Linked DNA regions of Homo sapiens. The protein of the gene in region 1 purifies or fractionates together with the protein of each later gene. This does not show direct contact. Each region holds a gene or a part of one and is shown on either strand. Other genes may lie near its edges. The genes, in order: SLC25A28, SPTLC1, LIPT1, RCC1, COG5, ETFA and DPM1.

Region 1 (4,220 bases):
AACAACTGCTGAAGAGAGTAGAAAAAGTTTTTAAAAAGGAAGCCCAGAGAAGAGCTAAACTTTAGAAAGAAAAAAGGAAAACATCTTTCCTATCCAAGGAAAACCTATGAACAGATGGAGAAGTCCACAGTTGCATCATCTGGGTAAAACAGAGAAGACAGAGCTGGAAACCGCGGGCAGCTTGTGCCAACACGCTCGGGGAAGGCAAATGGAAGAAGACGCCCGTGCTCCCTAGAGCAGGAGGTCCTAAGGCCGGGAATCGCTGGCCTTGCCTCTCAGGACCCGGGCTGACCCGAGGGAGGGAGAAGCCCTCATCGCCAGGCGGGGGACCCATCAGCGCGCCGGCTCAGGGACAAAATACTGATGCTTCAGACTCGGCCAGGCCGTGCGTCCGAGCTTCCCCACAGCCGCCGCACTTCCCTGCTGCCTTTGGGATGCGGCCTCCAGCCCCGCCTCGCCACCGGCCGTCATCTGTGAATCATCCCGCCCATTTCGACATCTTCCTCCCCCGCCTTCGGCTCTTGGCCTGGCGCAGAGCCCAGTGACAGCCGGGGCCCGGGGAACCTCATTCATTCAACACTTGTTGGGTTTACTCTGCGAATGTGGATGCGAGGCTCAGTGCCGGGCGCTGGGGCCTGAGGAGCACCGAGTCCGGCCAGAGGGCCCAATACTCCAGACCCGACCAGAGTCTAGCGGGCCGCCGCGGTCCCCCCTGGAGGTGAGGCGGTTCCCAGCCCGCATGTCGCAACGGCTTCCCGGACAGGCTGCGGGTCGCGCCAGCCAGGGATGACCGGCCCAGGCCGGCCCCGCCTCACGCCCGCGACGAGATCCCGCGGGAACACGGCTCTCCGGGGCCAGGGCCGCCCGCTCTCCAGCCACGCGTCTCAGAATTTGAGGAGCGCACGGGAGCGCGGGTCGTAACGGCGCCCGTCAGCAGTTTGACGTTGAAGGCCTGTCGCCGCCCCGCCCCCGACGCGATCCCGCGCACAGGGACCGCAGCTCTGCAGGCGCTAGTGAGGGGCCCGAAGTCGGCCCCTAGAGTCCCTGGGCGCGTCGCTCTTTCTGTAGCCAATCGGGGACCGACGTGGTGCGGGCCAATGGCCGCGGTCAAAGTATCAAGAGTGGTTGAGCCTATCAAAGTTCAGCCTTAAGTTTCTCCCGCCCTTCTAAAAGTCAGAGGCGGGTTGATCGCACATGTCGGCCAATCAGTGACCAATAAACAAGAAGCTTCTAAGATCAAAGGGGAAAAGGTGGGATGTAGGCGCTAGCAACGCCTCAGGGCGGAGGAATGACAGGCGACTTCGCTAATACTACCGGCTGATTTTTCGTACGTAAGGAAAGGGGTGGGTCTAACTTGGCGTCTCCACCAATGGTTGCTTGGGGGGCGTGTCCGCGGGGCCAAGCGGGAGCCGGAGGCCCCGGGCTCTCTGGGCCGCGCCTGAGGCGGACACTACGGGGCCGGGGGGCGGCGGCGGCAGTGGTGGCAGCGGCGGCGGGGGTGGGCGCCGCAGCTGGCCCGGGTGGATGGAGTTGGAGGGGCGGGGTGCTGGCGGTGTGGCGGGGGGGCCGGCGGCAGGGCCCGGGCGGAGCCCCGGGGAGTCGGCGCTGCTGGACGGGTGGCTGCAGCGGGGCGTGGGCCGGGGGGCCGGCGGCGGGGAGGCCGGGGCCTGCAGGCCCCCGGTACGACAAGATCCGGACTCCGGCCCGGACTACGAGGCGCTGCCGGCTGGAGCCACTGTCACCACGCACATGGTGGCAGGCGCCGTGGCAGGGATCCTGGAGCACTGCGTGATGTACCCCATCGACTGCGTCAAGGTGAGACCTGCACCCGGCTTCGAACCCGACCTGGGGCTGACCCGACCCCTGGGTCTTGTCCGGAGCCAGGATCCCGGCTGAGAGCCGGAGCCGACATGGGTTCCTTCCTGGCTCCTGCCACTACCACATGATTCGAACCGACACTCCATTCAAGCAAGGTCCCAGCTGGGAGTTGATCCCAGTCAGGAACCAGGACCTATTTCTAACCGTCAGTGAAATCTGAATCGGGACTCAGGATCGAAAATCTGTCAGCCAAAGCCCTGGACCCCACCTGGGACTAAACAGGAATAGGGTGGGATGGGGTATCCCGAAGCTCAGGTAAGTGCTACTAACTCGATTAAGGTGAAGCCAACTGGCGTGAACCAGACCCTGAAATGGATCTAACGGCTTGAGATGTTTTCTGGGCTAGTGCTTTTACAAACTCCTTGCTGTATCTTCCCTTACTGACGGGGCAGGAACCCGAATCTGGGATCTCTCAGCTAGATAAAGGACTTACATGTTAAATCTTAACACATGAGTGATTGGAAATCATTGTGCAGTGAGAATGCAGAATTCCAGACTGGAAGTAATGTGGGAAAGATCGTATTCAGGAATAGGTTTCAGTTTCTCTGTGAAGCAAGCATGATACCCCACCTATTTCCTGAACATGAAAATTGAGCTGGGATTAGGACTGTATGTTCAGGGAGCACATCAGCCTCCAAACAAGAGAGATGAAACTGATAGCATATTTCTTTGGCCACCTGAAGTTGGCAAAAAGGGAGAAGTTGCCTAGAAAGGAAGTGTGACGGTATTAGAAAGTAGATGTAAGTATGAAGAAAATGGAAAGAGATCAACAAGAGGACACGATTCTTGTGAAAGTAAAACTAATTGCATTCACAACCAAGCAGGATGATTTATGTGTACTGAAGTCAGGTCCTTCTGAAGAAAGCTGGGTGAAGAAAGAAACAGATTATTGTTCTTTACAGTTCTTATTCTTGTACATTAGTAAAGGTGCCAGCCATTAAAGGTGAGGACTGAATTGAGGGAGAGGTAAACTAGAGGGGACTGTTGATATGACAAAGACCGATGCCTCCTTTACATGTGAAGGGTAATAGTCAAACAGTGACCTGGCAGCTTTTTGATGTATGTTTTCTCTTCAAATCAGGAAAGTGTTATGTATTCAAAAGGAGGAGAGAATCAACTTGGGAAAGGCAAAGTAGATCCCTTTTACTTCCCTTTGGTTCCAGTACTGTTTCATGTTTTTCATTAGAATGTGGATAAGGAAATGGGGGGAGCGCTCATTAAGCTTTGTGAATGACAGCAAACTGGCAGGAGTATTTTAACACAAGGTAACTCCTAACAAGGGCCATATCCATTGAAAACGGGGTAAATGCACTTGACTAAAATGGACATTAGAATGTTAAATGTCCTTGTCAATTGGGAGAAATAGAAATAAACTGTAAAATCCATGAGAGAGAAGTAACAACATTGAAATGTAAAACAAGTATAAATAAAAAAGATGCACACATTATATGTATAGACTCTAGGTTGAATGACTTGTGAGTTAATAATGCCGTATATCCAAAAGTTAATATAATCTAGCTGCAGAGTAACCTCCCTAGACTTAGACTGTGAGTAGAGTGCAGGGTTTAGGATGCTGTTTTTCTGGATGAGTATTGAATGGAAAACAGATCAATGAAAACAGTGAAAATTATGTAATGGCTTGAAAAATACAGTGTAATAATTTGTCTTAGAAATATTACTGTAACTTATCAATTTAACCACTGTTCCATTATAACAGAACGGGAGGTTATCTCCTTACTCCATATATTTACATAGTGCTATTGTTGCTATAAACATTTTATAAATCCCTGTTAAAAATGCTTCTAGAATATTTGGGTGCATGTCCTTAAGGGAGGCAAATCTTTGCCCTGTGACAAGATGGAATTGATTTTGCAAGAACAAAGACTATTCAGAATCAAATATGGTGAATAAAGTGGGAGGTCAAAATGGGTAATACTGCTTGGCATCAAAATAAGGTGGGACTGGAAAGCAAGGAGACTGCTTTACTTCTGAGGCCTATAAACCCGTTGAGGAAACACCTCTGAAAGAGAAGTTCCAGAAAGGTTTTGCATAACCACAGCTTTGCTGGAATAAGTCAATTGTAGCCTTCCAAGGTAACTATTTTGAAGAACAGTTCTTACTCATTTACATAAACTTTGGAATTTTTGTTTTTTAAAAATTAGTCATACAACATAGCAGTTATGCCTGAAAGCCCTCTATTAAGGAAATAATGATTTGAGAAAAAAATGCTCAGGAGTTGTCAACAATACGAAAGCTTATTTTAGAAGGCTCATTTTCACTTGCACTTAATGCTGGGATTTAAATGACTTAGAGGGAAGAACTAGGTGAGGCCAGTATGATTT
Region 2 (3,500 bases), on another chromosome or scaffold:
TAAAAATTTTGATGATGTCCAGTTTATGTGTTTTGTTGTTGCTTGTGCTTTTGTGTTTTATTTTAAAATCTTTGTTTAATCTGGCCGGGCACGGTGGCTCACGCCTGTAATCCCAGCACTTTGGGAGGCCGAGGCAGGTGAATCATTTGAGGTCAGGAGTTCGAGACCAGCCTGGCCAACATGGTAAAACCCCGTCTCTACTAAAAATACAAAAAAATTAGCCGGGTGTGGTGGTACACGCCTGTAATCCCAGCTACTCGGGAGGCTGAGGCAGGAGAATTGCTTGAACCTGGGATGTGGAGGTTGCAGTGAGCCGAGATCACGCCAGTGCACTCCAGCCTGGGCAACAGAGCGAGACTCTGTCTCAAAAAAAAAAAAATAATAATAATAATCTTTGTTTAATCCAAAATTATCAAGATTTATTGCTATGTTTCCCCCTAAGAGTTTATAGTTTTCAGTCTTACATTTAGGTCTGTAGTTCATTTGAGTTCATTTTTGCGTATGCGTTGATGAAGAGGTCCAATTTTATTCTTTCACAAGTGGTTATCCAGTTTTGCCTGCATCATTTGTTTAATGTTTCCCCATTGACTGGTCTTGGCACCCTTGTTGAAATTAATTGACCATAGATGTATGGGTTTATTTCTAGACTCTATTCTGTTTCATTCTTCTATATATCTGTCCTATGCCAGTACCACACTGTGTCAATTATTGTAGCTTTGTAGTGAGTTTTGAAATCAGGACATGTGAGTTCAACTTTGTTCTTTTTCAAAATTATTTTAGCTATTTGGGGTCTCTTGAAATTCCATTTGAATTTTAGGATTAGCTTTTCCATTTCTGTAAAAAGTATTGTTGGGATTTTGGTGGGGATTGCATTGAATATGTAGTCACATTGGGAAGTATTACCATCTTAATGATATTAAGTCTTCCAGTCCATGAACTTGGGATTTTTCCATCTATTTAGATATTTCCTTCAGCAATGTTTTGTGATTTTTAGTATATACGTCCTGCACCTCTTTGGTTAAATTTATCACTAAGTATTTGATTTTTTTATTCTACTATAAATGGAATTGTTTCCTTAATTTCCTTTTTAGATTGTTTACTGCTATTTATAGAAATACAACAGATATTTGTGTATTGCTTTTGCATAATGTAACTTCTGCTGAATTTATTAGCTCAAATAATACTTTTGTGGATCTTATTCTATGTATAAGATTACACCATCTGTGAATAGAGATAATTTTACTTGTTTCTTTTCAATTTGGATGCCCTTTATCTTTCTTGCCTGATTGCCCTGGCTAGGACCTCGACTACAGTGTTGACTACAGGTGGCGAAAATGAGCATCTTTGTCTTGTTCCTGATCTTATAAGGAAAGCTTTCAGTCTTCTACCATTGAGTATGATGGTAGCTGTGAGTTTTTTATAATAACCTTTTATCAGGTTGAGGAAGTTCCTTCCCATTTTTAATTTATTGAGTGTTTTATCATGAGAGGTTGTTGGATTTTGTCAAATTTTTTTTCTGCATTTATTGGGATGATCATGTGGGGTTTTTCCCCCTACATTCTTCTAATGTGTATGTAATACATATTTGATTTTTCCATGTTGAACCACCATTGCATTCGGCCATTGAGATTTTAATCTAGGAGTCTATTAATTGAATAAGGATTCAAAATAAGGGTTCCATATGTTGTTTTTAAATGTTTTCACTATTTCTGAGGAAATCTAAATATATTTTAAGTATCAATAGAAGAGATGTATTTGTTTTCTTCTTTTTGTTTTTGTAAGAGTGTCAATGGTTGATAGAATAATGGGAGGGAGGTAGTGAACCAGAAGATACTAGGACGTATATTATAGGGCTACAGTAATGAAGCAGTGCTAATGGACAGATACGAAACTAAAGATGAAGTGTAGGAACAGCTCAAGTGTAGATAAGCACTGAAGCTGGGCATGGTGGCTCACACCTTTAATCCCAACACTTTGGGTGGCGGAGGTAGGAGAATCACTTGAGCCCAGGAGGTCAAGGCTGCAGTGAGCCATGATCCTACCACTGCACTCTAGCCTGGGTGGCAGAGCAAGACTCTGTCTCAAAAAAAAAAAAAAAAAAATCAGTATTGTGCTGTCTTTTGTTAAGTGAATCATTTTAGACCATCTAAAGGACAATTGATTCTCATCATTCACCCTACTTATATTCTATAAAGTTGCCATGAACACTGGAATAAGAAATACTAAACTATTGCTGCTAGGGCAAATAATAGGGTTAGGTTCCTCTGAGCCTCTGGTTACAACATTTTCATCAACCAGTTGACACAAAACTTGCTTTATGTGTATTTTTGTTTAAAGGTGTCTTATTTAATGTCTGTTGATTCATTGCACTACCACTCATGCCTGAACAAAGCTTCTCTAACACACAAATTTTCTCCATAAGGGACATCACAGCACTAGGAGTAATAGACGGCACTTTAGCATGACACTTGGGGGCGACTCTAAATAGCAAAATCACCAACAAAAAGCACAGAAGTCCAAAAAAGTGGCAGTAAATAGGCCATGAAAAGGGTAGTTGTTCACAGGATCAGAGCTGAAACAGTCGCCTGTTCACCCTCACCTGGGAAAACACGTGTCAGGTAATTCAAATTCTTCACTGCTCTGCACATGCACATATCCGTGATGACAGGAAAAAAGTATTGATATGGAGGTTGCAAATAAGTTTTAATAAGTAGATGAATTTGCACATATAGAATTCACAAGTATTGAGAGTCAGCTGTACATACTTTTTAATCTTAATTTTTTTCTCCATAATATGTTCTATATGGTGCTAATCATTAGTATTTTAACGTTTATATAACACTTAGGTTAAGTTAAAATACAAATACAAAGCAAGAATCTTCCTGGAGGAAAGCCTTTCATTTGGAGTCCTAGGAGAGCATGGCCGAGGAGTCACTGAACACTATGGAATCAATGTAAGTTCCCCTTTTTTAAGAACGTTTCCCCTCTTATAGGAGACATGTAGTTCCATTCTGCTAGGCCTATATTTTTATAGGCACAAGACAGTGTTCCTTATCAGTTTGAAGGGTCACGAAACTTTGGTGTCTGTCACCTCAGTGAGCCCAGGATGAGTCTAGTCAGCCAGACCAGGGAACCCCATCTTCCTTCTGCACTTATAAACTCGGAGTGGGTAGTCATGGTTTGTGCTCTGTTTGCAAAGTTTCATTCGAATAGACTTTTAGTGTCTCTTCTCTAGAAATGGTTAAATTTTGCCTTCCAATTATTTCTTAAAATCATTAGGAATTTCCTGAGTGGTCTTTTCAGAAGTATTCATGACGGCAGAGAAAGGATACTGTTTCTGGTGTTTAAAAATCTGTATTCTATATAATGTGTTTGTGGGAGGTAGATACAGTTACGCGTGCGTGCGTGTGTGTGTGCATGTGTGTGTGTGTCAGAAACACCACTGGCATGCATTCAGCAAAACCTCTTAAAGTCCCAAACAGAATGAGGTGTCATGTTTC
Region 3 (2,836 bases), on another chromosome or scaffold:
TCAATGAACAGACAGGGCATGGTGGCTCACACCTGTAATCCCAGCACTTTGGGAGGCTGAGGTCGGCGGATCACTTGAGGCCAAGAGTTTGAGACCAGCCTGGCCAACACAGTGAAACCCTGTCTCTATTAAAAATAGAAAAAATTAGCTGGGCATGGTGACAAAACCCTGTAGTCCCACTACTCGGGAGGCTGAGGCATGAGGATCACTTGAACTCAGGAGGTAAAGGTTGCAGTGGGCCAAGATCGCACCACTGCACTCCAGCCTGGGTGAGAGTGAGTCTCTGTCTCAAAATAAATAAATGAAATAAATAAAATAAAATAAATGAAGGAAGAAAGAGAAGAAAGAGGATCCTAGAGGTCAGAAGAAATACACAGATAGGGATAGGTGATAAAGAATTTCAGATGGGGAGAAGTTACTGAAAGAGACTAGGTTGTTGTGTTTTGTTTTTTTTTTTTGACGTTACTAAAAGAGACTAGGTTTTTTTTTGACATACAATGTGCAAGTATGAGACATTTTATTTTCTAATTGAAACTGTATTAAGACATTTACTTGGAATCACATTATTCCCTTAATTTTTTCACAGAGAATATTCCATTTACTGTTTAGTTTGTGGTCTTGTGGACATGTTCTAAGTAATATATTTGTTAGCATGGTAGTTTCAGTTGGGCAAAACTTACTGCCAATAAGACTTGAATTTAATTTGTCACGTATTTCCAATGGCAACCAATGATCAGGTGCTTCAATATTACAAATTTCAATTCTTCCATTCTTTATGTCTATGAATACTTTAATTTCCAAGTGTGACTGTTCATATAACACATGAAAGGAAGTATTTATACTAAACTTTGGAGTTTTGCCATATATCCACTCCCAAGTTTGCAGTTCTTTGGCTTTGCTATTTATTCCAGGAAACAGTGTCTCATCCGTTGGGTTTATTAGGTGAATGTGATTATCAATTTGATGATAAGCAGCATACTCTGTAGCAACAGCATTCATTAGTACTTCACAGGTCAGAGTGGGATCCTTTTCCAAAAGATTTTTCACTAAGGAAGGTATGCTAGCAGTGGCATTGCTCCTGATCCCTTGGTAAGGGCTCTTTAGCAAAGAAGACAAGAACGTCCCATCAGTACTACATAATAAAGTGCAATGGTGATAGGCAGTAGTCCGGCCGATCTTAGAAGCTGTTCCTGAGATTTTAAACTGTCCATCAAGTAAAAGGTCAAATCTTTTGGTAGCCTGCACATCCAGCTGGGGTTGGACAGCATTCAGAGCTCTCACAATTAATTTCAGATTTTCCATTCTATCATACTTTTTTTTGGTTGTAAAGAAAGTCAAATTGATATTACCCATATCATGGTAGACTGTTCCTCCTCCACTTCTTCTCCGAGCCAGTTTTATACCTTCTTCTCTCATTAGATTCAGGTTACATTCCTGCCAAGGATTTTGATGCCTACCAATTACAACAGAGGGAGAATTCTGCCAAAAGAATAGAATTGGTTTGCCTTCTAGATTCATATGGTCATGGATCCAGTCTTCCACAGCCAGATTTTGATAGACATCATTGGAAATTGACTGTAAAATGAGCCCATTTTTTACTGTTTTTTTAAAGCCAGCTGCTGGGACCTGGCAGTTACAAAGTAACTGGAAGCAATTCTTCATTGAAAATGGGATCAGCATGCTTTTAAAAATGGAAGACAAACAAATTAATTCATCGAGAAAAGGAACATTAAATTCTATTTTCTAACTATCAATTATCGGTTATTTAATCCAAACTTAAAGTATCCAGTGCAGTTGCTTTTGGCTTTTAGCTTTACAATTAGTCTTTAGCAATGCTATAACCAAGTATTCAAAAGAAATAAATGAAGACAAATTTCAAATAATTTCAGTTGAAATAATTTCACAGTTTTCAAACAATAAGTCTGCTGCAAATACATTATGTAATATATCTTTTTTTTTTCTCTTACAGACAGGATTTCACCATGTTGCCCAGGCTGGTCTCAAACTCCTGGGCTCAAGCAGTCCTCCCACCTTGGCCTCCCAAAGTGCTGGGATTACAGGCATGAGCCACTGCACTCAGCCACATTACCTATATCTTAAAGCCAAATTATGTTGAATTCACAAGTAACAAATGTTCATCGAGAAAAATGAGAAAATACAGACAAGCAAGAAGAAAAAAATAAAAGCATTGATAGTCCTAATCACAATTAACATTTTGGTGTAAACCCATTTTATTTCTAAGCATGTATACGCACACACATTTCCCTCCCCATACTATTATTTCATTCGACATTCAATCTATATATATATATATATATATATATATATATATATATATATATATATTTTTTTTTTTTTTTTTTTTTTTTTTTTTTTTTTTTTTTTTGAGACGGAGTCTCGCCCTGTCACCCAGGCTGGAATGCTGTGGCGTGATCTTGGCTCACCGCAACCTCCGCCTCCCAGGTTCAGGCGATTCTCCTACCTCACTGGGATAACAGACGCCTGCCACCACGTGTGGCTAAATTTTGTATTTTTAGTAGGCATGGGGTTTCACCATGTTGGCCATGCTGGTCTTGGAACTCCTGACCTCAGGTGATCTGCCCGCCTCAGCCTCCCAAAGTGCTGGGATTACAGGCATGAGCCACCGCGTTGGCCCATTAAATCTATTTTGCATCAGCTTTAATGACTGTTTAATATTCCATTGTTAACAAGTTTACTCAGTCTCTTAGTCTGTAATTTTAGGTGGCTTCTAGTTTTTCTGGTTATCAACGATGTGTTCATGAACATTTCCGTGGAAAGCTTTCATTATGTCTTTATAACACTTTAAAAATAATTT
Region 4 (3,500 bases), on another chromosome or scaffold:
TTTTTTTGAGACGGAGTCTTGCTCTGTCACCCAGGCTGGAGTGCAGTGGCGTGATCTCGACTCACTGCAAGCTCTGCCTCCCGGGTTCACGCCATTTTCCTGCCTCAGCCTCCCGAGTAGCTAGGACTACAAGCGCCCGCCACCACGCCTGTCTAATTTTTTGTATTTTTAGTAGAGACGGGGTTTCACCGTGGTCTCGATCTCCTGACCTCATGATCCGCCCGCCTCGGCCTCCCAAAGTGCTGGGATTACAGGCGTGAGCCACCGCGCCCGGCCAGAAGAAATTTCTAATAACACTCAAGGACGCCAGCTCTGGAGTCTGACTAACTTGGTTCAGATCTTGGCCTTCTCTTCCAATCTTGAGTGAGATACTTCACCTTTCTGAGCCTCAGTTTTCTTCTCTGTAGAGTGGGATCATTGTGGCCAGCTTGTAGTGAAACGCTCCAGAATATTAGCCAAACACAACTAAGGAGATGTTGACTGGGTTTGTTCCATCCATGATAACAGATTTTTTGGTTAATGCCCCATGACACCAACACTTCATATAGCCCTTATGTGTCTGACTCCATTCCGGGCTGTGCTCATGGCAGCCCAGCCATCAGCACCAACTGTGCTGACATAATTGTTTCCTGCTTTTTCTCCTGACTTCTTATTGTGAGTACTTTTCATGCTAATACAGTCTCCCTCCCAGGCACAGCAGACTGCTACAGATTATTCTGATGAACTGATGAGATGTTTGCCTTGGCATACAGCTGTCTATCTAAAACAAGGGTGCCTCTTTTTTTGGTGGAGGGACAGAGTTTCACTCTTGTTGCCCAGGCTGGAGTGCAATGGTGCAAACTCGGCTTACCACAACCTCCACTTCCTGGGTTCAAGCGATTCTCCTGCCTCAGCCTCCCGAGTAGCTGGGATTACAGCACGCGTCACCACGCCTGGCTAATTTTGTATTTTTAGTAGAGATGGGGTTCCTCCACGTTGGTCAGGCTGGTCTCGAACTCCTGACCTCAGGTGATCCACCCGCCTTGGCCTCCCAATCTGCTGGGATTACAGGCGTGAGCCACCGTGCCCGGCCACAAAGATGCCTCTTATATCCCACATCCCTACCCCATCTAACTTTGCCTGCCTGACATCCTTTCTGGGATGGCTCCCAAGCACTTCAGATTGAATGAAAACACCTAGCAACATGGAGCTTCACGTCTCTTCTCTCCTGTTTGTTCAACAGTGTTCTCTATCTCACTACATGGAAGTCTACCATCTACCTGGTCATTTAAGCCCAAGCCTGGGAGTCTTTGTGTTTGGCCAAGCTCATAGGGGGATCTTGGGCAGGCCTGCCAAGAATCCTCTGGACTTTTTTAGGATGAACAAATCAAGCCAAGTGCTGTGGCACGTGCCCATGATCCCAGGCTCTTGGGAAGCTGAGGTGGGAAGATCGCTTGAGTCCATGAGTTCGAGGCTGCAATAAGCTAATTGCACCACTGCACTCCAGCCTAGGTGACAGAGTGAGACCCCCTCTCTTAAAAAAATAAAATAAAAGGCCAGGCATGGTGGCTTACACCTATAATCCCAGCACTTTGGGAGTCCAAGGCTAGAGAATCGCTTGAGCCCAGGAGTTCGGGACCAGCCTGGGCAACATGGCAAGACGTTGTTTCTGCAAAATATACAAAAATTAGCCGGGCGTGGTGGTGCACACCTGTAGTCCCAGCTATCCAGGATGGCTCAAGCCCGGGTGGTTGAGGCTGCAGTGAGCCATGACCATGCCACTGCACTCAAGTCTGGGCAGGACCCTGTCTCAAAAATAAATACAAAGGATGAACAAATTATGAGAGTAAAAAAGGGTTAGTCTCCTTTATCCTTGCTACACCTCCTCACCCAAAGCCAAGCAGTAGTGTAGCAGGATAAGCCGCAGACAAAACCCCCCAGACACCCAGTTAAAGAAGGAAGGGCTTTATTCAGCTGGGAGCTTTGGCAAGATTCACGTCTCCAAAAACTGAGCTCCCCGAGTGAGCAGTTCCTGTCCCTTTTAAGGGCTTACAACTCTAAGGGGGTCTGCATGAAGAGGTCGTGATTGATTGAGCAAGCAGGGGATATGTGACTGGGGGCTGCATGCACTGGTTATCAGAACGGAACAGAACAGGACAGGGATTTTCACAGTGCTTTTCCATACGATGTCTGGAATCTATAGATAACATAACCGGTTAGGTCAGGGGTCGATCTTTAACCAGACACAGGTCGCGGCGCCAGGCTGTCTGCCTGTGGATTTCATTTCTGCCTTTTAGTTTTTACTTCTTTGGAGGCAGAAATTGGGCATAAGACAATATGAGGGGTGGTCTCCTCCCTTAGTAGTAAAGCACTATAAATATTTGTGGATTTACAACCATTTCATTCAGTCTTGATGACAGCCCTGAGAAGTAGTCATTGCATCCCCTTTTATAGATGAGGATACAGTTCAGAGAGGTTAAGGCAACTGGCCAGCCACAAGCTCTGGAAGGTGAACCCAGTTCCCTCTAATCCCAAAGAATGTGCACTTTTTAGTGTGGGACAAGGGGTCTCAAAAGACAGGTGGGAGGATTCTCAGCCCTGGGAGAATAAAAGTTGGGTGAAGTTCAGAACTGCCACCTCATCAGTCAGAACTGGGCCAGTGACAACCTGCAGAAGCTCAGCCTGCAAAGGCTTATCAGGATTCTAGACCTTTGGTTACTTTCCCATCTTTAGTATTTAGTTCTCCTTCCCCAGGATAATCAGCAGAAAAGTGCCTGGCCTTGTGTCCATATACCATGGAGGGGAGAGCTAGAGAGGCGAGGTTCTCGGGAACCACTAGAAGGAAGGAATGAGGGGGCTGCTGGTTAGGCCCAGAGCTGAGACCGAGAAGGGCTCTTGGAGTTCTCCTTCCCTTCGTAACATTAGGTAGAGGCTTAGACAACTTGATTGTTTTTCATGACCTTAAAGACTGTGGCTCCGGCCGGGCATGGTGGCTCACAGCTGTTGTAATCCCAGCACTTTGGGAGGCTGAGGCGGGTAGATCGCTTGAGCCCAGGAGTTCTAGACCAGCCTGGGCAACTTGGCAAAACCCTGTCTCTACAAAATATATAAAAATTAGCTGGACACTGTGATGCGCACTTGTAGTCCCAGCTATTCTAGAGGCTGAGGTGGGAGGATCACCTGAGCTCAAGAGGTCAAACCTGCAATGAGCCGTGATTGTGCCACTGCACTTGAGCCTGGGCAACAGAGAGTGAGATGCTGTCTCAAAAAAACAAACAAACAAACAAACAAAAACAAGTACTTGATGACTCCATTGGGGTCAATTATGAAGAGACCTCTTAGTGCAAGACCAGGACCTTCTAACAGCACACCGAAGTCTCGAGAAATTCGCTTAGTTAAATCTGACAAGGGTGCGATGTTTATGTGGCCCAAAGCACCATTCTTTCTTGGTGTATTTATCCAGGCAAGACGGCTAAAGTGGGAATCCACTGAGACTGCAACAACTTCAAAGTTCACATCGT
Region 5 (3,500 bases), on another chromosome or scaffold:
TACTTACAAGCCATACATCTGATACGGGGATTAACGTCCAAAATATATAAGGAACTCAAATCAATAACAAGAAAACAACCTGATTTAAACATAGGCAAAGGACCTGAACAGACATTTCTCAAAAGAAGACATACAAATGGCCAGTAGATATGTGAAAAAACATTCAACATCACTAATCATCAGGGGAATGCAAATTAAAACCACAATGAGATTGCACCTCACACCTGTCAGAATTGACTTATCAAAAAGATGAAAGATACCGAGTGTGAAAGACGATGTACAGAAAAGGGAACCCTTGTATACTGTGGTTGGAATGTAAATTAGGCAGCCATTATGGAAAACTGTAAGGACGTTTCTCAAAAAACTAAAAACAGAACTACCACATGATCCAGCAGTCCCACTTCTGGATACATAACCTAAGAACTTGAAATCAGTATGTCAAAAGATATACGCACTTCCATGTTCATTGCAGCATTACTTACAATGGCCAAGTTATGGAATCAATCTAAATGTCCACCAACATTTAGATTGATAAATGGATAAAGAAAATGTGGTATACATACACAATGGAATACCATCCAGCCTTCAGAAAGACAGGAATTCTGTTAATTGCAACAAATAGATGAACCTACAGAACATTATGCTAAGTGAAGTAAGCCAGACACCAAAAGACAAATACCACATGACCTCACATATCTGTTGTCTAAAACAACCGAATACATAGAAACAGAGAGTAGAATGGCAGTTAGCAGCTATGGGGTGGAGGGAATAGAGAGATGTTGGTCAAAGGGTACAAAGTTGCAGTTAGGAGGAATAAATGATAAGTATTTAAGGTGATGAGTATGATTACCTTGATTCAGTCATTCCACACTGTATACATATAACATTACTGTGTATCCCCTTATTATATATTATTATAATTCATCAAAAATAAACATTAAAAAAATGAAATAGATTGGCACCATTTTCGGATAGGGAGGCTTCTTTTATTTGTTTGTTTTTGCAGCCTGGCCTTGTGGAGTGACAAACCTAGAGTAAAGCTAGGCTATGCAGTTGTCTGAATCTGGGAAAACCAAACCCCACATGAAGATGGCCGTCATTTACTAAGGCTCCCCTGTACCCAAGCGCCACTCCATCATGTGATGATACTGCAAACAAAAATGTTGCACCATACACCCTTCAGCAGCCTTGCTGTTGTTGGCACAGTCTTATACCTGTATGAAATCCCTTCCTGCTGGAACATAGGCCTACTTCTTCTATCTCTATCTGCTTCTGAAAGTGACGGACCTCTGGTTAGCATCCTATTTATAGTAACCACTGCTGTATTTGAAGATAATTAAGTTCAACTCATTCTCTTGCTCTAAGCATTTTAGTCATATCTGTTGTTCTTCTATAGACCATCACCAATTTCTCTACGTCATTCTCAGAATATGGAAACACTTAACTTGCTTTTTGAAAAAGATTCAGCATGATGTAGCCAGTGATCTCATTTATTAGAAAATATCAGGTGTTAGCTAGTTTTGGTATATCTCTTTCCTATAAATATTTCACATTCTTTTAATATATTCTTTAAAGAGCAATTATAAACATTTATAAATTATAAATAGTATTTCATGGAGCATCAGCTGGTATCATTTGTTGATCCAAATTAAAGCCTTTCCAAACCTCATCATCTAGAGGAAAAAACTGCATGCCATGTGTACTGTTACATAACCATTTCCACAGTCAGAATTCTGTTGGACTGATCTGATTAAATAGCACAAGAGCAGAGAGATCTTTGCCAAGAATTTGTATAGGGAAAGCAGCATTTTCTGTCATTGCAAAGCATAAAATGCTATTTCAGGATCCATTATTGATGCATTCAGTTAGCAGGCAAAACATGTGAGTGGATGGAGAATTGAGAGGCTGGGAGGGACCTTGAGAGGCCAGAGAGTAGCACTTGTATGATTCATCCAAGACAGATGGTTGTCTATTTCATTCTTAATAATCTTTAGGTAAATGGATTCTAAAATTCCTTCAGTAATCCTCCTGGCATCTAAACCACTTTTTGAAATGTAATTTTTAAACATTGTTTTCTGCTAACGCTTATCAAAAAGTAATTAATGTCTTTTATACCATTAAGGGAAAACATTACAAAGGATTGAAATAGCAGCATTGGTGGGGAGAGGGGTACAAAATCAAAGAGTGTGATTTAGTGCAGCGGTGCTGAAAAGGGCTGCTTTTTCTTTTACAGGTCATTATCCAGCTCAGGAAAACCTGATGTTCCTTGTTCTCTGTACATGAAGGAGCTACAAGGTTTCATTGCCAGAGTTATGAGTGACTATTTTAAACACTTTGAATGCTTGGATTTTGTCTTTGACAACACTGAGGCTATTGCCCAAAGAGCTGTTGAACTTTTTATCCGCCATGCCAGTCTCATAAGACCTCTTGGTGAAGGTGGGAAAATGCGACTTGCTGCTGATTTTGCACAGGTACATTGATGAATTACTACAAAAGAAAAAATGTTTTGGCCTCAATATCATCTATTAAATGAAAGAATGTGTTTTCATCGGTGTTTTTAAAGAGTTGCAGCACAAAGAAAAGTAAGCCCACTTAAGCATAAATAGTTAAAAAAAAAAAGGGAGAGTTTAAAGATACTTTTATACCAGATATATTTTTCTTTGTATTTAACAAAATAATTATCCCTCTCTTTGGTATTTCAAGGTTAAGGTGAAATAGCTCATTCCACAGGAAAGCAGCACTTCCCATTTTTATTTCATATGGGATTTTCTCACTATTTTACTGTCCCAATAGGTCAAACCTTGCTGACCAATAATGTAGGCAATGAAATCATATTTCAAACAGTGAAAAGAGACCGCTTGTTGCCATGTCACCATTCCGAGGCAGTGTTCCCATTCCTTTAAATGCACAGTGGGCCAGGTAGACATAGAGTCTGATTATTTGTTCTCTCTCTATCAGGTAGAGTACAGTTCTTCTCTGTGGCTAGCCTTGAAATCATTTCAGGCTATCTGATGTGTGTGAGAGATAGAATGACATTAAAATAGCAAAACATTATCAGCTCTTATAGAAAGCGTTTTCTTTGTCCTTTAGACAGATTTTTTAAAGCCTTTCAGTAGGCAATGAAGAAAAACCCCAAACATGCTTTCATTAAAAGATTCAGAAACAAAGATGATTGTTATTTTTGTATAGCATACCAAGGGTAAAATCTTTTTCTTTTTGAGACAGAGTCTTGCTCTGTCGCCCAGGTTGGAGTGCAGTGGCACAATCTCAGCTCACTGCAACCTCCACCTCCTGGGTTCAAGTGATTCCTCTGCCTCAGCTTCCCGAGTAGCTGGAACTACAGGCACGCGCCACCACGCCTGGATAATTTTTGTATTTTTAGTACAGACAGGGTTTAACCGTATTGGCCAAGCTGGTCTCAAACTCCTGACCTTGTGATCCACCCGCCTTGGCCTCCCAAAGTGTTGGGATTACAGGCGTGAGCCACCACACCTGGCTGG
Region 6 (3,500 bases), on another chromosome or scaffold:
CTGGGTTCACGCCATTCATCTGCCTCAGCCTCCCAAGTAGCTGGGACTACAGGTGCCCGCCACCACGCCCGGCTAATTTTTGTATTTTTAGTAGAGACGGGGTTTCACCATGTTAGCCAGGATGGTCTCGCTCTCCTGACCTTGTGATCTGCCCGCCTCGGCCTCCCAAAGTGCTGGGATTACAGGTGTGAGCCACCGCTCCTGGCCGAGGATTTTCTTTAGATAAAAACATCACTTCATTTTTTAGTTTTGTCTAAAATCATTTATCATTGCTGTATTTTTTCCCCCAATTTTTTTTTTTTTTTTTTGAAATAGAGTCTTACTCTCACCCAGGCTGGAGTGCAGTGGTGTGATCTTGACTCGCTGCAGCCTCAACCTTCTAGGCTTAAATGATCCTTCCATCTCAGCCTTCCAAGTAGCTGGGGCTACGGGAATGCGCCACCACATCTGACTAATTTTTTAATTTTTATCTTTCATAGAAACAGGGTCTTACTGTATTGTCCAGGCTGGTCTTAAACTCCTGGGCCAATTTTAGGTTTGCAGGGTATCTGTGCAGATTTATTATGAGTAAACCGTGTGTCCTGGGGGTTTGATGTACAGATTATTTTGCCGCCCAGGTAATGAACATAGCATCCAATAGGTAATTTTTTGATTCTCACCCTGCTCCCACCCTCCACCCTCAAATAGGCCCAGGTATCTATTGTTCCCTTCTTTGTATCCATAGGTATTTGATGTTTGGCTGCCACTTACAAGAGAGAACATTCCATGTTTGGTTTTTCTGTTCCTGCATTAATTCACTTAGGATAATGGCCTCCAGCACTGTCCATGTTGCTCTAAAGGACATGATCTCATTCTTTTTAATGGCTGTGTAGTATTCCATGGTGTATATATACCACATTTTCTTTACCCAGTCCATCCCTTGCATGGGCATCTAGGTTGATTCCATGTCTTTGCTACTGTGAATAGTGCTGCCATGAACATGCACATGCATGTATCTTTATGGTAGAATGGTTCATATTCCTTTGGGTATATTCCCAATTATGGTATTGCTGGGTCGAATGTTCTAAGTTCTTTGAGAAATCGCCACATTGCTTTCCGCAGTGGCTGAACTAATTTACATCCTCACCAGCAGTATATAAGCGTTCCTTTTCTCTGCAACCTTGCCAGCATCTGTTGTTTTTTGAGTTTTAAATAATAGCCATTCTGACTGGTGTGAGATGTCTCATTGTGGTTTTTATTTGCATTTCTCTAATGATTAGTTAATGTTGAGCATTTTTTTATATGCTTGTTGGCCACATATGAGAAGTGTCTGTTGATGTCCATTGCCCATTTTTTAATAGGGTTGTTTTTTGCTTGTTGATTTAAGTTCCTTATAGATTCTGGTTATTAGACGTTTGTCAGATGCATAGTTTGCAGATTTTTTTTTACCATTCTGTAGGTTGTCTGTTTACTTTGTTGATAGTTTATTTTGCTGTGCAGAAGCTCTTTAGTTTAATTAGGTCTCACTTGTAAGTTTTTATTTTTGTTGCAATTTCTTTTGGAGTGTTCGTCATGAAATCTTTGCCAGGGTCTATGTTCAAAATGCCATTTCCTATGTTTTCTTCTTGGGTTTTTATAGTTCGAGGTCTTACATTTAAATCATTTTTTGTTTGTTTGTTTTTTGAGATGGAGACTTGCTTTGTCACCCAGGCTGGAGTGCAAGGGTGCAATCTTGGCTCACTGCAACCTCCGCCTCCTGGGTTCAAGCAATTCTCCTGCCGCAGCCTTCGGAAGAGCTGGGATTACAGACTCCTGCCACCACGCCCAGCTAATTTTTGTATTTTTAGTAGAGACAACAGGGTTTCACCATGTTGGCCAGGCTGGTCTCGAACTCCTGACCTTAGGTGATCCACTCGCCTCGGCCTCTCAAAGTGCTGGGATTGCAGGTGTGAGCCACTGCACCTGGCAGAAGTTTTTTTGTTTTGTGTTGTTTTGTTTTTAAGTAGAGTTTGGCCTGTGTGGTAGTACACATCTGTAGTCCTAGCTACTCAGGAGGCTGAGGCAGGAGGATCCCTTGGGCCCAGGAATTGGACGCCAGCCTGGGCAACATAGAAAGACACTGTCTCTAAAAATAAAATTTTTTGAAAATAGACTTTATGTTTTAGAGCAGTTTTAGGTTCACAGCAAAATCCAATGGAAAGTACAGAGAGTCTTCCTGGTCCACACACCCACAACCTCCTCCACTGTCAACATACAGCACCAGAGTTGTCCATTTGTTACAATTAATGAATTTACATTGACATCAGCATTTCCCAGAGTCCATAGTTTACATTAGGATTCACTCTTTGTGTTGTACCTTCTATGGGTTTGGACAAATGGATAATGACAGGTATCTACCATTATTATATCATACAGAATAGTTTCACTGCCCCCGCCCCCACTCCCCCTGGAAAAAACAAAACAACAACAACAAAAAACCTCTATGCTTTGTTCTCCTAATCCCTGGCAGTCACTGATCTTTTTACTGTTTCTATAGTTTTGCGTTTAACAGAGTGTCATATAGTTGGGATTAGACAGCATGTAGCCTTTTCAGACTGTTTTTTTTTTCACTAAGTAATATGCATTCAAGGTTCCTCCATGTCATTCTCATTTCTTGTTACTGCTGAATAAGATTCCATTGTATGAATATTTATTCACTTACTGAAGGACATTTTGGTTGCTTCCAAGTTTTGGCAGTTATGAATAAACCTGCTGTAGACGTCTGGTTTTTGTGTGGACCTAAGTTTTCAACTCATTTGGGTACGTACAAAGGAGTGCAGTTGCTAGATTGTATGGTAAGATTATGTTTAGTTTTATAAGCAACTGCCAAACTGTCTTCCAAAGTGGCTGCACCAGTTTGCATTTTTACCAGCAATGAATGAGAGTTTCTGTTGTTCCACATCCTTACTAGCATTTGGTATTGTCAGTGTTTTGGTTTTTTACCATTCTAATAAGTGTGTAGTGGTATCTCGTTTTAATTTGCAATTTCCTAGTGAGCATCTTGATGTTGAGCATCTTTTCATATGCTTCTTGGCCATCTTCTTTGGTGAGGTACCTGTTCAGATCCTTTCCCCCTATTTAAATCAGATTGTTCATTTTTTATGTTGACTTTTAAGGGTTCTTTATTTTTTTTAGATAAGTCTTTTATCAGATATGTCTTTTGCACATATTTTGTCCCAGTCTATGGCTTGTGTTCTCATTCCTTTGATGAAGAGGTGTTTGTTTTGTTTTGTTTTGTTTTGTTTTGAGATGGAGTCTCTCTCGCCTAGGCTGGAGTGCAGTGGTGTGATCTCGGCTCACTGAAACATCCACCTCCAGGGTTCAAGTGATTCTTGTGCCTTAGCCTCCTGAGTAGCTGGGACTATGGCGTGTGCCACCATGCCCAGCTAATTTTCGTATTTTTAGGAGAAATGGGGTTTCACTCTACTGACCAGGCTGGTCTCGAACTCCTGACTTCAGGTGATCCATCGGCCTCGGCCTCC
Region 7 (3,500 bases), on another chromosome or scaffold:
TGTAATGCTATCCTGCCTCACATAGAAAGGGGCCATCAGATTGATATGAAGAGGCAAAAAAGGATCAGGGGAGGGTGGAGAGGTGGAATTAAGAGTCTGAAAGTAAAGCATACCAAATAGAAATAGTTTGGATTTCCTACATAAGAAATAAACAAGCACATCCTTGTAAAATATAAATGTTACCAGTAAAACCGAAGTTGCCTTTGATGAACATTTTATTTATTTATTTATTTATTTTTTTTTTGAGATTGGAGTCTCGCTCTGTCGCCCAGGCTGGAGTGCAATGGCAAGATCTCAGCTCACTGCACACTCTGCCTCCTGGGTTCAAGCAGTTCTCCTGCCCCAGCCTCCCGAGTAGCTGGGATTACAGACCTGCACCACCATGCTGGCTAATTTTAGTATTTTTAGTAGAGACTGGGCTTCACCGTGTTGGTCAGGCTCTTCTTGAACTCCTAACCTCAGGTGATCTGCCCACCTCAGCCCCGCAAAGTGCTGGGATTACAGGCGTGAGCCACCACGCCCGACCTGATGAACATTTTCTATAGGCATCCCATTCCCTTGCACAGGGGAGACCCAGGTCAACAGTTTGGTGCGTTTTTTTGTGCATATATGTGTGTATGTGCATTTGCAGAACTAGGTAGTGTGGTGGTCTTGTTTTTTAAAACATAACTGCCATCTTCCTGTATCATCATTACTTCTAATTCTGTCTTGGCGATCTTTTGTCACCAGCTCACCTCATTTCTGTTAATGGCTCCATAATACTCTAATATTTTATATAAACCTTTGAAGATTCTGAAAATTATAAGTATCATAGTCTCCTTGTCCATGGTTTTGCTTTCCGTGATTTGTTACCTGCAGTCTGAAAAGAGGTAAGTACAGTACAAGAAGATTTTTTGAGTTAGACCAAGTTCACATAACTTTTATTACAATATATTGTTGTAATTGTTTTATTTTATTATTGGGTATTGTTAATCTCTTACTGTGCTTAATTTATAAATTAAACTGTGATAGGTGTGTATGTATAAGAAAAAGTATATATAAGGTTTGGTACTATTGGAGATTTCAGGCATCTCCTGGGGGTCTTAGAAAGTATCACTTGGGGTTAAGGGGGTGTGCAACTGTAACAAAGTTATGTTTGTTTGTTTGTTTGTTTGTTTGTTTTTTGAGACGGAGTCTCACTGTGTCACTGAGGCTGGAGTGCTGTGGTGTGATCTCAGCTCATGCAACCTCTACTTCCCGGGTTCAAGCGATTCTTCTACCTCAGCCTCCTGAGTAGCTGGGATTACAGGCACGTGCCACTACACCTGGCTAATTTTTGTATTTTTAGTAGAGATGAGGTCTCACCACGTTGGCCAAGCTGGTCTCTTAACTCCTGACCTCAAATGATTCACCCGCCTCAGCCTCCCAAAGTGCTGGGATTACAGGTGTGAGCCACTGCATCTGGCCAAAGTTATCTTTTTTTAAAAGAAAGATTTTCCAGCTAAAACAGAGTTGTAGAAAATCTCAGATGAGCTTTAAAAAATTTGCTTTTTCAGGGCAGATACCAGATGGGGATCAGTATTTTGTCAGAAATTATTCACAAAATCAAATAAAATCTAGCTGTGATCTGATATATCCTGCTCGATTTTGTTCAGTGACTTGCAATTATCATAGATGCTTATTTGAATGTCTTTCCTTCCTGTAAGCTCTTACCAGACAGCAGTGTATTTTATCCATCTTTATGCAAGATGTACTTTGCTATAGATACAAATTGTGACTTAAAATTTTTTAAATGTGGGGATAGTGGAGTAAAAGTGTAGAGGATTTCTTTTTAGCAGTTAGAGTTAGATTGTTATCAGCTTAAAATAGCCTGTTATCACTATAAGATGGGTTTTGTAAGTCTCATGGTAATCATAAAGGAAAAGCCTAAAGTAGATTCACAAAAGATAAAAAGTAAGGAATCAAAGCATAATAGTACAGAAGATAATCATAAAGGAAAGGAGAAAGAGAAAGAAGCAAAAGATCTACAAAACAACTAGAAGCAATTAACAAAATGGCAGTAGGAAGTTCTTACATTACATGTCGGTAATTACCTTGGATATAAAGGGATTAAATTCTCCAAAGACCTGGAGTGACTGAATGGATTTTTTAAAAAAGAGCCAACTATATGCTTCCCACAAAAGACTTGACTTGTAAGGATACACATAGACTCAAAGTGAAGGGATGGAAAAAGACATTCCATGCAAATAGAAACCTCCAGCAGATTGCATATAGTGAAAAAAAAAAAAAATCATCTGCTTTAATTGAAAATGCTTTGTTGAGAGATTTGCAGTCAGAGGCAACCTGCTTATATACTGGCAAGTGTAGAAGGGGACAAGATAGACAAGACATGCTCACTAATGAGTCTCCCTGAACCCCATACCTCAGAAACGTAGGGCACAGTGAGAACTTTGGCATTTGACTTTTAAAGTGTCCAGCCAAAAGGAAAAACTAAACAAGTAAAAGTCAGGCTCCAACTATTAAGCAAAAAGATTTAGGAGGACTAAGTGATTGACCAATAGTAAGAAAAGAGAAAGAATTTAATTAGGAATATGACATGTCCTTGGACCAGTAGAGGAGATGAGGTCATCCAAGCATAAGGTCAAGATAAGTTAATAGAGGAAGAGTGATATTAGTATTCAAAACCCAAAGGGAATCGAGAGAACAAACATCAGATTTCCCAAGAAGGTGCAAAATAATGAAGTAAGTCCTACATTTTTCTAGGAAGGAATCAATAGATTTAAAAGGAAAATCAAATATAGATGTAAAGACATATTTAAAATAGAGTGAGTGACACCAGAAAAAAAAGTTTAAAATTGTGATTGTAGGGTCAGGGTTAAAGAATGTTGCTTTGCTGGACGGGCGCGGTGACTCATGCCTGTAATCCCAGTGCTTTGGGAGGCCGAGGCGGGCGGATCACGAGGTCAGGAGATCGAGACCATCCTGGCTAACACGGTGGAACCCTGTCTCTACTAAAAATACGAAAATTAGCCGGGCATGGTGGTGCATGCCTGTAATCCCAGCTACTCTGGAGGCTGAGGCAGGAGAATCACTTTAACCCAGGAGGCAGAGGTTGCAGTGAGCGGAGATCACGCCACTGTACTCCAGCCTAGGCAACAGAGCGAGACTGCATCTCAAAAAAAAAAAATGTTAGCTACGTTAAACTATTTGGTTTGTTACCAAATGCTTTTTTTTTTCTTTTGGCAAAAAAATATTAAGGATACTTTGCTTTAAGTTCTAACAAGTGCAACTATATTTCTATTAAAGTGAGTATGCACTTTTGAATAAGATAAAATTTAACATGATAAGATTTCTGTTTCTGTGTGTAAAATGCTATTTCTTATTCCTACAGCTTCTAAGACCACGAGAGAAAAAGTTGGGACTAGGTAAGTCGTGTAATCTCTAACCCCTCACACCTGCTGCTTGCTTGGTGACATGATCCAGTGTGTATTTTCCCAGTTTGGAATAGGGCCAAAATACAG

What was found.
Region 2: the proteins of SLC25A28 (region 1) and SPTLC1 purify together in Homo sapiens (affinity purification with mass spectrometry, with the first as the bait; one large-scale study listed by BioGRID). This does not show direct contact.
Region 3: the proteins of SLC25A28 (region 1) and LIPT1 purify together in Homo sapiens (affinity purification with mass spectrometry, with the first as the bait; one large-scale study listed by BioGRID). This does not show direct contact.
Region 4: the proteins of SLC25A28 (region 1) and RCC1 purify together in Homo sapiens (affinity purification with mass spectrometry, with the first as the bait; one large-scale study listed by BioGRID). This does not show direct contact.
Region 5: the proteins of SLC25A28 (region 1) and COG5 purify together in Homo sapiens (affinity purification with mass spectrometry, with the first as the bait; one large-scale study listed by BioGRID). This does not show direct contact.
Region 6: the proteins of SLC25A28 (region 1) and ETFA purify together in Homo sapiens (affinity purification with mass spectrometry, with the first as the bait; one large-scale study listed by BioGRID). This does not show direct contact.
Region 7: the proteins of SLC25A28 (region 1) and DPM1 purify together in Homo sapiens (affinity purification with mass spectrometry, with the first as the bait; one large-scale study listed by BioGRID). This does not show direct contact.

Annotation. Positions count from the first base shown.
Region 1 is NC_000010.11:99,617,640-99,621,859, reverse strand, and holds the start of SLC25A28 (mitoferrin-2), read left to right. Parts: upstream 1-1,420; 5' UTR 1,421-1,524; coding exon 1,525-1,815; intron 1,816-1,827; exon of another isoform or gene 1,828-2,112; coding exon of another isoform or gene 2,113-2,133; intron 2,134-4,220. UniProt on the Homo sapiens protein: Mitochondrial iron transporter that mediates iron uptake. Probably required for heme synthesis of hemoproteins and Fe-S cluster assembly in non-erythroid cells.
Region 2 is NC_000009.12:92,049,414-92,052,913, reverse strand, and holds part of SPTLC1 (serine palmitoyltransferase 1), read left to right. Parts: intron 1-2,846; coding exon 2,847-2,954; intron 2,955-3,500. UniProt on the Homo sapiens protein: Component of the serine palmitoyltransferase multisubunit enzyme (SPT) that catalyzes the initial and rate-limiting step in sphingolipid biosynthesis by condensing L-serine and activated acyl-CoA (most commonly palmitoyl-CoA) to form long-chain bases.
Region 3 is NC_000002.12:99,160,802-99,163,637, reverse strand, and holds the end of LIPT1 (lipoyl amidotransferase LIPT1, mitochondrial precursor), read right to left. Parts: intron 2,212-2,836; exon of another isoform or gene 2,117-2,211; coding exon of another isoform or gene 1,970-2,116; intron 1,682-1,969; 5' UTR 1,681-1,681; coding exon 559-1,680; 3' UTR 501-558; downstream 1-500. Other genes in the region: MITD1 (MIT domain-containing protein 1), read left to right, coding at 1,970-2,116. UniProt on the Homo sapiens protein: Lipoyl amidotransferase that catalyzes the transfer of lipoyl moieties from lipoyl-protein H of the glycine cleavage system (lipoyl-GCSH) to E2 subunits of the pyruvate dehydrogenase complex (PDCE2).
Region 4 is NC_000001.11:28,523,043-28,526,542, forward strand, and holds part of RCC1 (regulator of chromosome condensation), read left to right. Parts: intron 1-3,315; exon of another isoform or gene 3,316-3,500. UniProt on the Homo sapiens protein: Guanine-nucleotide releasing factor that promotes the exchange of Ran-bound GDP by GTP, and thereby plays an important role in RAN-mediated functions in nuclear import and mitosis.
Region 5 is NC_000007.14:107,235,421-107,238,920, reverse strand, and holds part of COG5 (conserved oligomeric Golgi complex subunit 5), read left to right. Parts: intron 1-2,233; coding exon 2,234-2,471; intron 2,472-3,500.
Region 6 is NC_000015.10:76,301,470-76,304,969, reverse strand, and holds part of ETFA (electron transfer flavoprotein subunit alpha, mitochondrial), read left to right. Parts: intron 1-3,500. UniProt on the Homo sapiens protein: Heterodimeric electron transfer flavoprotein that accepts electrons from several mitochondrial dehydrogenases, including acyl-CoA dehydrogenases, glutaryl-CoA and sarcosine dehydrogenase.
Region 7 is NC_000020.11:50,948,533-50,952,032, reverse strand, and holds part of DPM1 (dolichol-phosphate mannosyltransferase subunit 1), read left to right. Parts: intron 1-3,370; coding exon 3,371-3,404; intron 3,405-3,500. UniProt on the Homo sapiens protein: Transfers mannose from GDP-mannose to dolichol monophosphate to form dolichol phosphate mannose (Dol-P-Man) which is the mannosyl donor in pathways leading to N-glycosylation, glycosyl phosphatidylinositol membrane anchoring, and O-mannosylation of proteins; catalytic subunit of the dolichol-phosphate mannose (DPM) synthase complex.